Linked DNA regions of Homo sapiens. The protein of the gene in region 1 purifies or fractionates together with the protein of each later gene. This does not show direct contact. Each region holds a gene or a part of one and is shown in the gene's direction. Other genes may lie near its edges.

Region 1 (3,656 bases):
TGGAGTCTCGCTCTGTTGCCCAGGCTGGAGTGGCATGATCGATCTCGGCTCACTGCAACCTCCACCTCCTGGGTTCATGTGATTCTCCTGCCTCAGCCTCCTGAGTAGCTGGGATTACAGGTGTGCGCCACTATGCCCAGCTAATTTTTTTGTATTTTTAGTAGAGACGGGGTTTCACCATGTTGCCCAGGTTGGTCCCCATCTCCTGACTTCAAGTGATCCACCTGCTTCTTCTTCCCAAAGTGCTGGGATTACAGGCATGAGCCAGTGTGCCCGGCCATATTGTCCCTAAAGAATAAAAAATTCAGCTATTTCTTATTTTTCTTAACTATAAAAATAAGGGGTCCAGCTGGCTAATCTGTAGGTCTCAACTTTAAAGTGCATTGCTTTAGGTTCCATATTGCATATTGAATGCCTACCTTTTACAAGGTAAGAGGGAAGGGTCTTTGTGCTTGAAACCTTTGGGTCCTGTTTTCTTCCCATGATGTCACATCACTAGAGTAACCCCTTAAACAGAAGTCCTTTCTGATCTACTTCCTCATATTCTGGGAAATGGTAGATGATTGATTTTTCTTTGCTGTATGAGAAGAGAAAGCCTGCATGTGTGTCTGGAAAGCGTTTTGGGATACCCTCTTGCAAGGTTTCCATAATTCGCTTGGCTCCAAATCATAAGCTGTCCTGTCCTGGGGAGCCCACCCCAACCTGAAGCCCAACCCAGGCCCTCACATACCTGGCTTTCTTTCTTTTCTTTTCTTTTCTTTTCTTTTTTTGGAGACAGAGTCTCACTCTGTTGCCCAGGCTGGAGTGCAGTGGCGTGATCTTAGCTCACTGCAACCTCCACCTCCCAGGTTCAAGCGATTCTCCTGCCTCAGCCTCCCGAGTAGCTGGGATTATAGGCACCTGTCACCACGCCTGGCTAATTTTTGTATTTTTAGTAGAGGCAGGGTTTCACCATGTTGGCCAGGCTGGTCTCGAACTCCTGACCTCAGGTGATCCACCTGGCTTGGCCTCCCGAAGTGGTGGGATTACAGGCGTGAGCCACCGCACCCGGCCACCTGGCCTTCTTTTTTAACTTGGGGTCATTGCATCCACTATTATGCCCCTTCCCACTCTGTCCCCAGTTTCCCCTAAGACATCTGGCCTGTGGTTTTTATGTATAACAACACTGGAAAAGCCCAAATTCTTGAGAAGATGTGATCAGAGGGGTGTTTTGAATGGGAGGGCCCTACCCCCCTTCTCAAGGATGGCTGTCTTTCGCCTTGGATGGTGTGGGCCCTGGGAGGAGCTGCCGGCGCTGCTGTTGTGCCCGATTGACTCCTTTCCTGAGTGAAGTCTGGAAGACCCCATCAGGGTCCTGAGGTCCTGCAAGGCAGCCTCCGGGCCTCCTGGGGGAATGGTGTGAGTCACACATGAGCACACACTATGAGACTGGCTCTAAAATGGGACCGCCACTGCATGGGCGGGCGGCCTGTATCTGTACCCAGCTCCCTGTCCCTTGTGCTTAGATGGCACCAAATATTTGGGAGGCAGGAGGGGAGCTGCCCACTCTGATGCATGTCTCTTTAAAAAGTAACCTAGGCTTCTGTTGGAATTACTCAGGTTCCCATTCCCACGATTAGCTTCTCGAGCCTGAGATGATTCAGCACCCGGGCAGGTGTCCCCAGAGAAGGCCCTTAGCTAGCCCGCCAAGCGCTGGAGCAGCTGGGAGTCCCTCAGTGGCTGTCTGCATCTCTAGCCCAGGACCCTCCTGCTGTGGCTGGAAGGAGCCTTTGCAGGGCCTTCCGGAAGGGTGTGGCTTCCTGCCGTGCAGGTTGGGCTAAGGCCTGTAGTGGGGTTACAGGTAGCTGATCTTCCCCACCCTCGAGTCACTTCCTTGGTACTTCTCAGAGGCCCTTACCATCCTTATGGTATGTCCCAGAGGAGAAAAGGGGCTTCTCAGGGAGGTCCCTCTCTTGCCTTCTTAGGCCAAGATGATGTCTTTCTGTACAACTTTTTATTTTTCTGAGACGGAGTCTCGCTCTGTCACCCAGGCTGGAGTGCAGTGGCGCGATCTCAGCTCACTGCACGCTCCACCTCCCGGGTTCACGCCATTCTCCTGCCTCAGCCTCCCAAGTAGCTGGGACTACAGGCACCCGCCACCACGCCCGGCTAATTTTTTTTGTATTTTCAGTAGAGACGGGGTTTCACCGTGTTAGCCAGGATGGTCTCCATCTCCTGACCTCATGATCCACCCGCCTCGGCCTCCCGAAGTGCTGGGATTACAGGCGTGAGCCACCACGCCTGGCCTCTCTGTACAATTTTTAATGTGTTGGGGGAGCTCGAAGCTAATCTCTGAGTAGGTTGCCACTCACCAAAAGGACGTGGGCCTTAGAAAGAAGAGCCTTTCTTCTTGCATTTTAACTCTAATTTGAAATCATCCCCTGCTTAAAAGAAAAATCAGCAACAACAATGAAAACCCTCCCTACTGGATTTAGAATTATAGAATGCCTGGCTGGAAGAGATGTTGGGAATAATTAAAATAACATTTCTTTTTTTTTTTCCTAATTAGAGAAAAAGCGATTTGCTTAAGCTCATTCTGTGAGTCGGTAGAAAACCTTGGCCCCTGGTTTCGCTCATACCCAGTGCCTTTCCAAATCAGGAGGCTTCATTTAAGCGTGTTTTCTAAATGGTGACTCTCTTTTTTTTTGATGTTTATGCCCTGTTTAGCCAAGCAACACATACTGAGCTCCTTTAATCTTTCCTTAAGAGTCTATTCTTCTACTCCCTTCGTCTTTTTTGTTGTTTTTTGTTGGGGGGCACTAGGGTTAAGGAATGGGGTGGGAAGTGTTTTGGGTTTCTCTGAACTTCTTCCAGCTGGACGTGACCACTTGGGCTGAAAGTTCCCACAGCTCGAAAAATCAATATTTCACATGGGGTGGTGCCAGGCAGCAGGGTGGGCCATTCAGAAAGCCACACTGCTGCCCACTGTCCTCAGCCAGCCCTGATTTCTAGTAACTTTAGGTCACTTAATGTCTCCGGTGATAATTTGTTATATTTTCAACACAAAATGCACGGGAGAAGGAACAAAATAAAGTTTTGGGATCAGGCAGAGCTAGGAGCAGACCCCCCGCCTTTTCTCCTGCTGCTCGCCTTAGTTTTCCCATCTGCACCGTGGAGAAGCCTCTTTCTTAGCATTATAAATGGATGTGAAGTGGTCTGTTCCTCCTCTTCCTCCCCTTCATCTCTCTTCTTTTTTTATGAGACAGCGTCTTGCTCTGTTGCCCAGGCTGGAATGTGGTGGCGCGATAGCAACTCACTACAGCCTCGGCCTCCGTCTCAAGCATTCTTCCCACCTCAGCCTCCTAAGTAGCTGGGATCACAGGTGTGCACCACCAGGCCTGGCTAATTTTTTTTTTTTTTTGTAGAGACAGGGTTTTGCCATGTTGCCCAGGCTTGTCTCAAACTCCTGAGCTCAAGCAATCTACCTGCCTTGGCCTCCCAAAGTGCTAGGATTACAGGTGTGAGCCACCTCGTCCAGCTTCTCCTTTTCTTCATAGTAACAATAACATCATCTCTCCTCAGGTGGTAGGAAATACACGTTCAAGTTTTTTTTTGTTTTTTTGAGACGGAGTCTTGCTCTGTCGTCCAGGCTGGACTGCAGTGGCACCATCTCGGCT
Region 2 (3,656 bases), on another chromosome or scaffold:
TATCATCATGGGAGTGGCTAAAAAGCCTAAACCAATTTATGTTGATAAAAGAACTGGAGACAAGCATGATCTTGAGCCTTCAGGACTAGTTCCAAAGTACATCAATAAAAAGGTAGCCTTGTGGTATATTAATAAGAGGGCTGAAATTCAAATAATTTAAATATGGTGTTCATGATGATCATCTATGTTATCATTATTAGTGCTCTCATTGGACACATTGTCTACTTTGCTGATTCTCATTCTTCTGCAATCTGTGTTTGGTCCAAATGTAATGGGATGAAGTTACAAAGAACCCATAGTAAACAATTCCATATAGTTCAGTAGATAAAAGTTATTGTTTTCCTTAATTTTGATTATTAACATATTTAACAATTTTAATAAACATTCTCTGAAAGATATTTTTGGTTAGTTGGAAATGTCACTAAAAGCAGTCATTACTGTAAATCTAGAAGGAATAAGCTGTCAGATGGTCTTAAGATTTAGTCATTAATTGCAGTAACTTGGCAGCTGAATAAGAAAAATGAAGCAGAATGCAGCTTTAGAGCCATCCATCTCATCAGTGTAGTATAAATAATTCACATTCCTATTTTAACATGAATATATTTATTTGGTTTTGGTTTTGGGTAAAGACTTGAAAGTACTGTACAATAATCTAGTCCTTTTGGGTCCTTCATTTGTATCTGAAAAGGTGTGTAATTTCATTGGTGAACATTATAGTTTAAATATAGATTTTTTTTGAGACATATTCTCATGCTGTTTCCCAGGCTGGAGTACAATGGTGCAATCTCAGCTCACTGCAACTTCCAACTTCCGGCTCGAGTGATTCTCCTCACTCAGCCTCCCAAGTAGCTGGAATTACAGGCATGCATCACCAGGCCTGGTTATTTTTTTGTATATTTAGTAGACAGGGGGTTTCACCATGTTGGCCAGGCTGGTCTTGACTCCTGACCTCAAGTGATCCACCCACCTCAGCCTCCCAAAGTGCTGGGATTGCAGACATAAGCCACTGCACCCAGCCAAATACAGATCTTTAAAATAAAAAAGCTTACAAAAAATCTTATTTAATGCTACTTTATTTTGCGCACTTATAAAGCTTAAAAGTGCTTGAAACACACAAAATATGAATGCAGGCTGGGCACAGTGGCTCACAACTGTAATCCCAGCACTTTAGAAGGCCAGGAGGATTGCTTGAGGTCAGGAGTTCAAGTCCATCTTGGCCAACATGGTGACACCCCATCTCTACTAAAAATACAAAAATTAGCCAGGCGTGGTGGTGTGTGCCTGTAATCCCAGCTACTCGGGTGGCTAAGGCACGAGAATCGCTTGATCCCAGGAGGCGGGGGTTGCAGTGAGCCAAGGTCGCGTCACTGCACTCCAGCCTGGGTGACAGAGCGAGACTCGGTGTCAAAAAAAAAAAAAAAGAGTGCAGAATTCTAAAGAATAATAAGTTGCATCAAGAAGAAATGAAGGAAGGGAGGGAGAAAGGAAAGGAAGGAAGGAAAAAGGAAGAGAGAGATAAAGAAAAAGGAAGAGAGATAAAGAAAAAAAGAAAAGAAATTGCAATAGTGATGTACAGGGACCTAAAATTGAAGAGTCCAGTGATCTACCATGATAAATCCAATGCCAGTGGAAAATCAAAACAGGACCCTCAAGGCTGTTTTCAGAGGACACTGTCTTCTCAGGAATCTAGGAGTTCCCAGGATAAGCCAATAAAGTTACTTCAGGCTTCTCCAGGTACTTCCTCCTTCTGTGGCCCCTGGAAACTGTTTTATAGTCGTTGTCCCACAGGATAGGGAAAAGTGGAAAACTCACTCTCATGGCTCTTAAAGCCACTTCCAGTCCATTATTTCTCCATGATCATATGAAAAGTCTTTACTGGTCATGCCACCACCTGTCACACACTCTGCCCCTCCCTTCTGGCTGCTCTCTAAGCTGTCCACTTGAATGCATTTTCTACCTTCAACAGGAAATTTGGAGTATCCATCATGGAAACAGAAAAATACCAGAGTTTACCAAACCATGAAAGCACTGTGCACCTAATGCCCTTTTGGTGTTGCTGACTAAGCAATCAGTGCTCATGAAAGACTTACTCAATTTACTTTTCCCTTATCAGAGTTAAGTTTTAAAGATCTATCATTGGTAGGTGAGATAGTAAATAAATTCTTTTAAAGTCAATGTCATATTTTTATAAAATGAGTGAACTCCCATTTCAGCTCCAAGTGAATTATATGCCATTCATACCATGAGAAACAATTTCTGAAAACAAGCAAGGATAGATGATCACATGAGGTATTTAGCAATACCAGTAAAGACATTCTTTCAAAGTCTAACTCTGCCACTTAGTAACTGTGATTTCCAACAATCCATTGGATTTATCACAGGGTTGTAGTGAGGATTAAATTATATAAAGTATATTGAGCACTTGACACAAAATGTGACACCTAATAAAAGAACAAAGAGTGAATAGTATAATATATGCAATTTTATTAACAGTATGCATTAGCCTCCGGTGATTCAGCCCATAGGAATATTTCAGATCATTGAAGCTTTTGCTCATTTGTGAGTTTTTTTTCTGAACTGTATCACACCATTCCCTTTCTTTTTAAAAACACTTAATTTAATTTTTTTTAGAGATGGAGTCTCACTATGTTGCCCAGGCTGGTCTTGAACTTTTGGGCTCAAGCAGTTCTCCTGCCTAGCTGTCCCAAAGTGCTGGGGTTACAGGCTTGAGCCACTGCGCCCAGTCATTCTCTTTCTTAAACAGAGTATGCCAAATATAATTTAATCTTTCTGTGATCCTGCAGAATCATCATGATGAAGCTCCATTATTGTACTAAGCTGTAATGAGGTGTTTCCTTCAGTGTTTCCTGAAGTGGATTGGCCTGTCTCACTCACTGCACCAGCTGACCAGAATACTGGCCTCCCAGAGTCTATTTGTATTGTCCTCTGCAGCTTCCAGAACACATTTATATCTAGGATTTCTATCCCTTGTTCAGTCAGGATGGGTTAAGTTACACTGTGATGACAAACAATCCCCAAATTTCAGTAACTTAAAGCAACAAAGTGTTATTGTTTGCTTTTGCCACGTGCCCTTTGAGGGTTGTTACAGGCTCTGCTTCTTGTCCTTCTTCCAGGACCCAGAAAAATCTAAACATTGCTTGTCACTAGACCAGACAGGAAAAGACACAGCAAGTCATCCACTAATTCTTAAGACTCCTATCGAGAAGTGGCAGAGGTCACCTCCACTGACACTGAGCAATTCAGGGCATATGGCTACATCTTACTTTATGAGGACAACACAGGAAAGTGTTGTCCTACCAAGTGTCTAGAAGGAGAACAGAATATTTGTCAGAATTTTAATGACTACCATACCTCCCAACTGCTGCTTCTTCGGAGAGTTCCTCCCCGACCTCCTTATTTATCTAAAATAGCCCCTATTATTTTCTTTTCCCCCACTATCCTTCTTTATTTTACTTCAGAACACATACATATTATTTCATTCTCTATTTTTGGTGAGTCTCTGTCACCATAGAATGCAAATTCCCTGAAGACGGAAACTTTGCCTTTTTTATTCACTAGTATTCCTAGCACCAAGTACATTCTCAAACATCTTTTGAAGAAGGAATACATAGTAATTCTGTTTCTATAGATGGTGA

The links.
Region 2: the proteins of MYH9 (region 1) and ENKUR purify together in Homo sapiens (affinity purification with western blotting; 4 studies listed by BioGRID, with this or other methods). This does not show direct contact.

What each region holds. Positions count from the first base shown.
Region 1 is NC_000022.11:36,377,856-36,381,511, reverse strand, and holds part of MYH9 (myosin-9), read left to right. Parts: intron 1-3,656. UniProt on the Homo sapiens protein: Cellular myosin that appears to play a role in cytokinesis, cell shape, and specialized functions such as secretion and capping. Required for cortical actin clearance prior to oocyte exocytosis. Promotes cell motility in conjunction with S100A4.
Region 2 is NC_000010.11:24,992,102-24,995,757, reverse strand, and holds part of ENKUR (enkurin), read left to right. Parts: coding exon 1-112; intron 113-3,656. UniProt on the Homo sapiens protein: Adapter that functions to localize a calcium-sensitive signal transduction machinery in sperm to a calcium-permeable ion channel.